2 separate regions of the Homo sapiens genome follow, and region 1 is linked to region 2. The links come from fine-mapping of genetic effects on gene expression. A gene starts in region 2. The other region holds a variant in brackets. All regions are shown on one strand. Distances are from middle to middle. Region 1 overlaps KCNN3 (potassium calcium-activated channel subfamily N member 3). Region 2 holds the start of UBE2Q1 (ubiquitin conjugating enzyme E2 Q1).

The links. PIP is the estimated chance that this variant, and not a neighbour inherited with it, causes the effect. A credible set is the group of variants that fine-mapping cannot tell apart.
Region 1: its variant is the best candidate, but not a certain one, in a credible set for the expression of UBE2Q1 in whole blood (INTERVAL, PIP 0.81).

The regions. Positions count from the first base shown.
Region 1 is chr1:154,693,976-154,698,237 of GRCh38, forward strand. It overlaps KCNN3 (potassium calcium-activated channel subfamily N member 3), which reads right to left. Exons shown (of 8, transcript NM_002249.6): 8 at 3,480-4,262. Among named protein-coding and RNA genes, the nearest start is that of ADAR, 88 kb to the left of the region's middle. The variant T/C (reference allele first, on the strand shown) is at 1,766.
Region 2 is chr1:154,556,446-154,560,657 of GRCh38, forward strand. UBE2Q1 (ubiquitin conjugating enzyme E2 Q1) reads right to left here and starts at 2,217. Exons shown (of 13, transcript NM_017582.7): 1 at 1,782-2,217. The coding sequence starts at 2,108. RefSeq lists silencers at 1,812-1,911, 2,232-2,311, 2,402-2,491, 2,612-2,701 and enhancers at 2,071-2,652, 2,653-3,233.

The sequences.
Region 1 (4,262 bases), 140 kb after region 2:
TCATCACATAGGCATGATCAATTTTTTTTTTTTTTTTTTGAGATAGAGCCTCGCTCTGTTGCCCAGGCTAGAGTGCAGTGGTGCGACCTTAGCTCACTGCATCCTTCGCCTCCTGAGTTCAAGCAATTCTTTTGCTTTGGCCTCCTGACTAGCTGGGATTACAGGCATGCACCACCATGCCCGGCTAATTTTTGTAGTTTTAGTAGAGATGGGGTTTCACCATGTTAGCTAGGCTGAAGGTTCCAGGTTTCTAATCAGAGCTTGGTCTTTCTGGTGACCAGCTCCAATTTTGGAGCTATCCAGGAGCCCAGCAAGAGTCACCTCATTATAACAAGAAGTGGGTCCTATCATCCAGGAAATCCCATGGGATTTAGGAGCTCTGTGCCAGGAACAAGGGACAAAGACCCAAAATATATTTCTTATTATGCCACATAATGTCCCCATTTCTCTCCTCTCCCCTCTGCCTTTGGTGGTCTTCATCCTCATGTTCCACATGGTGGCCCTCTGTCAACTCCTCCCTCTCCCCTCATCAAACAAAAGGGTTGCAGCAGCTCCTGATCAAGCAGCACCTCACCCTCCTGGGGTAGAGGGTCTTTTCTGGTTGCTCTGGCTCAAGCCCTGGGCTCTGGGGTTCACTTGCTCCCATTGGCCTGATTTGGGCCCTGTGCCCATCCGTTGGCTAGGGTGATGAGGTACTCTGATTGTCTTAAGCCTGCCATGGCCCACCAGAGGTCTGGAAGTTGTATTAACCCCACCCAAGTGCATAGTTGGGATGGGAGAAGGGCAAATTCACTAAAGAAAACTCTGCATGCTGTTGGCAGAGAATTGGGGAATGGGTGCTCTAGAGATAGTGAATAAATGTCCTCTACAGTTTTCTCACATCTTATTTCCAAGTACAGAACTGAGAATGTCAGTTCCTCTTATTGATGATCTGACCATACTCGTCGAGCATTTTCTCAATTAAACTGCCACCAAACAGGGTCCTATGTTCCCAAATTTGTGAATCAAGTAAACATTGCATTGTTATTATTGAAAAAAGTCTGTAGGAAATCCTAAGGGTAAATTTGTTAAGATTCCCAAATTCTGAAGTTTAGGATGAGTTATGTATCTACCTTCTCATTCCAAGAGGTGGGAGGTGAGGAGGGTGTTCTAAGAAAGGGCAATTGAATCACAGCTTACAGGCACTTACAGAAGACCTGACATTTCCCTTGATGAGTGACTGGGATGTGGGTGCCCCATTACTGTATGCATTCTTTCTTGAGAAGTACTTGATTGCTTTTAAGTGATACCCCAGTGTTTGAAAGTAGGAAGCAGAAGAGGTTTGGAAAAGCGTTTTACCTAGGTGAAGAGGAAATCGCCCTCAGGTATTGCATGCGTGTTTTCCACCTTTGGTTTTCCGGGGGGGAGGAATGCATTTTAAGAGAGGCTATTAAGTGTGACTTGTTCTCAGAAAAAATAAAGTGTAAATTTCAAATTCATGCTACAAGCAGATTAAGTTAATTTTGGCTAATCTTCATGTATTATTTGCAGTGGTGACGGCAATGAAGATTAATAACCTTGACCATCATTAGCATAATCCACTGTAATGCTGGATATAAAATCACATCATTTTAATAATCGAATTTAATGTTTCCTGACCAGTGGGGGTTCTTGTAGCTTTGCAAGTATTAGCTGTAAATTCTTTAAACTAAAGGCAGATAACTTTGAAAATGATCAATGCCTCTGGAATATAAAATGCACTATGAATTATTTTAACCAGTCGCAA[T/C]ATGCATATCTTTGTTTTCTTTGAGATATTGCTAATGCGGTGTATGCATTAGCGGTGTATGCGTGTGTTGAGAAGCAGGGGCTTTTCTTCTTAGCAAACATTTGCAAAATGGATAACCAACTACTTTATGAGGATGAATCAAGAAAGAGCATGGAGAGGCTATGGGCAGGCCTCAATTTACCACATCAGCCCAGAAGGCATTCTCAATGTGGCATGAAAAGGTTCCAGTTTACTTTCTGCCCATAATTCTCCATTTGATTCCAGGCAAATCACTTCTCTTGAATCTCTGTCTCCTATGTGTAAGGCAAGGGCCATGACCTAGATGAATGTCTCTAACAGGCATGGCCTGCCTTCTCATCTGCATCCGCATACAGTGCCAGCACCTTGTTTTTGACAGCCATACAGATGAGCCTTTTCCTGGATGCCAAGTGACATTTCTTTTTCCCTCAGATTGCCCTATTCCCGTTGGTCTGCAGGGGGTGTTCTTACTCAGAGTCTCCTGAATTCTGAATTAGCAGAATTGTCCATTTTGGAAAACTGGGCCCACCTTTGAGTTCTAATGTCTTGTTTTTCCAGCTTCCACAGTTATGCATGATGTAATAATGGATCAAATTTTCTTTATAATAGGAGACAACATTTTATCTAGTGGTTAGATATAGTTTGGAAAAGATCAATGCGTATAACATAGCAGGTTACCCAATTTTTGTGCGTTAGGTTTAGTGAGTTACCTGCTAGCAAGGACAATGTGTTATGTTTAATTTTAACTTTTTTCGTCTAGTGAAAAATGTCAGAATAGCCCTCCCTCAATCTTCACCCAGAGCTAAGGCCAAAGAAAGACATTACACCCAGACAGACTGTGTGCCAGGAGAAAGCAGCAGCCAGCCAGAGAAATACCATGTGAGGGAAGAGTAACCTGGCAGCATTGTTTGCCAATACACGTAGAGCCAGCATGCAGATCAGCACAGTCTCATGGGGCCAGGACTGAAGAGACATGAGGGCAAGATGAAAAGGAATCAAGCTTCGAGTAAATCACCATCTTTATAAAAACCTTGCCCCCTCCTACTCTCTTCTCTTCCCGTCTCCTCACCAACTAGGGGGAGGGGAGAGATCCTGAGGAGGGCTGTGCCAGACTAGGCACCGGTGGCCTCACTTCAGCAAGCTCTGGATCAGTGGTGCTCAACTTGGGGCACCCCTTAGAACGACCTGTGGTGCCTCAGGGACATGCCCAGGTGTCACCCATACTCTGCTTCTGAGTCTCCATGGGTTGAGAAGCCTGGCTTGGGGTTTTCAAAAGCTTCAGAGATGAGTCTACTGAGACCCTCTGCTCAGCTAAATGGAAGGAGTGCTGTGTGGAACTGCCCGATACTTTACTTGAACATAGTTGCAAGTTTGCCGTATCACACATCAGTGTGTCTAGATATTCTCGTTGATGAACAGCCATTCACCTTAGGAGCGGCTCTCACTCTCTCTGGGTGGTTAAAACTGGGTTTGGTATTAAGGCCTTCCATGTGTCTCCATGTTGGGGGGGCCAATCTCCTGAGTCAACACTACCATGAAAACCACGGCAGTTCTGGCCTTGCTTAAAGAAGCAACCTTTTCCAGGGGACGCTGTTTCCGATCTAAATTAAGATTTCCTCTTTTAAAAAATCTTGCTTTCACAACTATACATGTAGGGAAAGAAGAAGATAAAATTAAAGGAAATCAGTCACTTGCATTTTTGGTTTTTTGGTTTTAGTCAGTTCTCTTCTTGTTTTTATTTAATGCCATAATATTATATTAGCATATGCCGTAACATTTAAAAATGCCCATTCTCTCCAGCTTCAGTTCAAGCAGGAGTGGGGAAGGCCATAGACTAAGCCCACCTTCAAGGTCACACTTCCATATTTTGCACAGAGAAGAAAATGCAGTCTCCCATCCAGATCCTCAGACCCACACACCAGCCCACCACTCTCATTCCAGATGCCCTAAGCCTGGGTCTGGACACATGTGGTCAATACACATCCTGGATCTTACAAATCCAATGGTGGCCAGCAGTAGAACTGAAGCCTGTAAGTTTTCATTCACTCCTAAAGTGTGCTGAGAAATCCTAGCCTGTTTTTTCCATTTAATTCCTGTAGATGAGTCATTTGCTCCTCAGTTTTCTATGGCCCAATTTTCCCATTGGAATAATGGGAATAATATGTCATCCACCTTACAGGGTGATGACTAATATATTGGCATTTGAGATCCTTAGATGAAAGGTATTACTGTGTATAAGTATAAAGTACTATTATTTAGTAATCACTGAGTTGGTAAATGTATTCATTCATATGGAGTTTTTGGAGGAAGAGCTTTAAGGAATGACAGCAGTAGAAATGCAGCTAGATATATTTTTGAAAACATTTTTTAGGTCTACCAACTTAGAAAAAGTCCCAGATATTACATACTCCTTCTAAAGCACCTAATTTGCATTTTTATTATTATTATTATTTACCTAGAACTACAGAAAAATTTATGG
Region 2 (4,212 bases):
AGACTGTATCTCCAGAACCCAAGAGTAAAAGGGTACTGGCAAGAATCTACCCACACCACTTCCAGAAGAGCCCCTCAAAGACCAATTCTCCCCACCTCTCCCTTGGGAACCTGCCACCTTCTCAGTCCAGGCGTGGGCTGTAGGGCTCCACATGGCAGGCTGGGAGAAAGAAGCCTACGCTACTGACATTCCCAGCATTCCTGAGCCACGGTGCCAAATGCAGCCTGACCAGACTCCCTCTCTGCCCAAACCAAGGGGGCTAGTTTAGGCCAAGTCTCCTTTATAGCCATGGGGAGTCTGGCTGAGGACCCCCTAAATTTAACTTCCTGCCAGGGACAAACGCAGTAAATGGCCTCTGGCAACAGAAAGAGCAGCTGGATAGGGGCAAACCTACCCTTAAGGAATTAGAAGCTTAATTCAGGAACAAAATTAACTCGAGGTTCCCACACAAGCCAGGGAAACCTTATCCACCTCTACTGGGTATCTTAGCATTGCCATGACTCTAATCCTCAATGCTGGAGGAAAAATAATTATCAAAGATGCCCAAGTCTTCACTTAACTAAGCCACTCCTAGTCCTTCAATTTTAACTTTCTAGCAGGAAAAAAGAAAGGAAATGAAAAGAGAAATGGGACATATGAGTTTTGGTGGGGCACCAATCAATCCAAACTGAGGCTTTACCTCACCAAATCTTAACTTGGTTTGATTGAGAAAACGGACAGAAAACACCAGTAAGTTGAATTCAGGCCCCCAAGTAGCAGAGAATTCACAACTCTGCCTTTCCCCAGGCTACTCCGATTAGGTCTGCCTGCCTGGATAAAGTACTGTCTGCTAGCATTTCAGCTACTGCTCCGGTAGAGAGAATACCATCACAGCAGGTAACATCAACCAATATAAGTGCTATAGCATGCAGTACCAGACATTCCCAAATTAGCAGAAGCCAATTCTCTGTTCAAGGGATGTCTGAGGGTAGACCAGGCAGGAGACATGTAAGGTGTATGCCTAGGATGGAATGACGCTCACAGGGGAGAAATGCAACTGTTACTGCTTAGAATAAATGGGGGTAGCCCTCGCACATCACATCACTATCATTACCAGGAAAAGCAACAACCCAGGGCAAATGGACATATCCATAGGGAACAGGCAGGGGAGTGGCAGAACTGCTACCAGCTGAGGCAAAAAGAGGAGAGTTAGAGGTTACACCAGAAAAAGAATCCAAAGGAGAGAAGGAAGAGGAGTCAATGAATTGCAAACTATCACTTGGTGAAGTTGAGAGAGCAAGAGGGTCTGCATGAGGGATGCCTAGGCGGGGATCCCACAGGTGGCAACCTCCTAAGTCAGAGGTACTACTGAGAAGGGGGCATCGCTGAAATGTGCAGTGAGTTTCAGGCCAGGTCTTTGCAGTTAGGGTCAGTGCCGAGGCCTAAAACCTTGAAATAAGAGTAAGGGGAAGAAAGACGCATTCCTAGGTGGCAAGGTAAAGTTGTGGAGGAGTAGCCAAAAAGAGCCAAAATCATGAACCTTGGGATGTGGGTGGGTTCGTGGAAACGGGTAGTCTAGGCGCCATATGTCGGGGTGTCCCTTGCTATTGGGGTCAATGGTAGAGATTCTGGGTGCACTGCATAACCTCAAGCAGCAGAAACAAATGTAACCTGGAGAGAAAGAACTGAGCCCTGAGAGGGGCTTCGGCCTCCCAGGTCCTTCGAGAGCAAAAAGCTGGATGGAGTGATCCTGGGTCCCTGACAAGGGGCCCCCACAGAGGCGCACGCGAGGGGGTCCTCACCGTGATGTTGCAGTGGATGCGGACAGGATCCCCAGGCACCGACCCCCGTGGGGGGAGATGCGGTCCGGGCGCGGCCCCCGCCCCGGCCCCTCCGGCCCCAGCCAGCAGGAACTCGCAGCTCAGCTCGTCCAGGCAGGCGCTGGCAATGCGGAAGCGCTCGTGGCCGCGGTGGAAGATGGACTCGAGCAGCTTCAGCTCTCGCCTCAGGCAGGGCCCCGGCCCCGGGCCCCCCCCTGGGCCGCCCCCGGCCCCCGGCGCCGCCCCCTGGCCCCCCAGCTGCTGCCCCGGCCCCGGCTGCTGCTGCCCCTGCGGCTGCGGCTGCTGCATCCTCCGCTCCGCTCCGCTCCGGGGCCGGCGGGCCGGGAGCCTCCGGCCTGCGCTCCGGGCTCCGCCGCCGCCGCCGCCGCCGCCGCCGCCGCCGCGGTCCGCACTTCCTGATCCCCCCTTCGCCAAGATGGCGCCGCCGCCACCTCCGGGACAGGCCCCCCCCTCCGCTCGCTGGCCCCCCCAGCCGCCGGAAGCCGCGCGCCCCTCCTCCTCCTCCTCCTCCTAGGCGGCCCCGCCTCCGTCCCCCTCACGTGACTTCCCTGCTCTGGCCTCCTCCACGTGATCTCTCCGTCTTTCCCGCCCCCCTGTTCTCGCCTGCCACCCTCCACATGTGACCCGGGGCCTGGGGCTTGCCTCTGTGGGCGCCTCAGTGCGAGTTTGCGTATGTCGTGCGTGCTTGCGCGCGACGCCCCTTCGCCTGCGCTCCCCTCTCACGTGACTCGGTGCCGCGTGCTCCCAGGGGCTACCCGCGCAGGACGCTGTTTCCTGCCCCGGGCGCCGCTTCCCCCGCCCCCGAGCCGTGGCGAGCGTGCCCGGCACTCCATGGACAGAGAAGAAAGAAGTGCTGTCTTCCCCGTGCAGTCTTTATCCTGCTCCCACATGCTGGTCTTCGGCGCAGGATCCTGGAGCCTCTGCTCCCCGTGGGGGTGGGCATGCTGTGTCTTCACACTCGGGTGGGTGGTCGGGGTAGGAGCCGGGAACCGGAATGGAAGAGGCGTGGATTCTCGTCCCAGCCCTGGCTCTCATGGCGTTTTGTGACCTTGGGTTAACCACTTTCCCGCCGAGTCTCAGTTTCCTCATCTGTACAATGGCTCTCATGAGAATGATGCCTGTTTTTCCTATTCCCAGGGAGGGATTCGATGCGAGGACACCATAAAATGAGGAATGATAATAGATCACTGCTGTGTTATGTACAAGTGTTAGTTAATATCAGGCCTTTCGCGCTTTTCAGACCCCATGGGTCTGGACGAGGTTGGGGGAAGGACAGCATGGGCTTCCTCCACAGAGTCATGGAAGGAGTGCTGACTCGGGTGGTCCCCATTCCCTTTCCTAGGCCTAAATGGCTAACACCTTGTCGCAGTGGTCTTGGCAGCTGCCAGGAGTAGGTAGTGCCTCCGGACCCTCGCTAGGTGGCACTATCACAAAGGACAAAGCTGGTTGAAGCTACAGAAATCCCGAGCTGGCGTTCGTTTTGCCAAGGGCAAGTGTTATTAGCCTGTGGTAAGGCCTAGTCAATTCTGCTGGGCCAACTCAGCCCTTAAACCACTGGTCAGATTGCCCCGTTTCTCTCCCACTTGTACTAAAATGAGCTAGCCTTTGCTGGAAGACTATTCAATTGCCTCTGCAGAGGCCTCCTTTGGTCAAGTTGGGGTATGGGTATTTAAAGACGATTATAGTCTGTTCCTGGTCTTCGTGGGGCCATTTATCTGGTTTAGGTAGCCTGAACAGTTTGCTACATGTTGACTTTGTGTCTGTGTGTGCAAGCTGATAGCATAAAAGGCTGTGGTGGGAATTCCTGTTAATTATTTCCTGAGCGAAGGTGTTTTGCAAATATATATATATATATATATATATATATATTTATTTATTTATTTATTTATTTATTTATTTTAAGACAGGGTCTTGCTCTCTCGCCCTGGAGTGCAGGGGCACAATCTCAGCTCACTGCAGCCTCGGGAGACCTCAAGCTATCCTCCCACCTCAGCCTCCCAAGTAGCTGGGATTACAGGCGCATGCTACCACAGCTGGGTAATTTTCGTATTTTTTTTGTAGAAAGGGGTCTTGGTATGTTGCCCAGACTGGTCTCAAACTCCTGGGCTCAAGTGATCTGCCCATCTCGGCCTCCCAAGGTGCTGGGATTGCAGGTGTGAGCCACTGTGCCCAGGTGCAAATATTTGTAAATCTCCCAACAACATTGCAAGGTAAGTATTTTTACCCCTGTTTACAACTGGGGAAAAGGAGTGACTCTGTAAGGATATACAGTCTGTAAACAGAGTTCCTAGGCCTGTCTCCAAAGTCCATGCCCTTGTACCCTACTCTGCCTTTTTTAGTGTGTTGAACCCCAGCTCTGCCAACTACTAATGATGTGACTGTGGGGAAATTA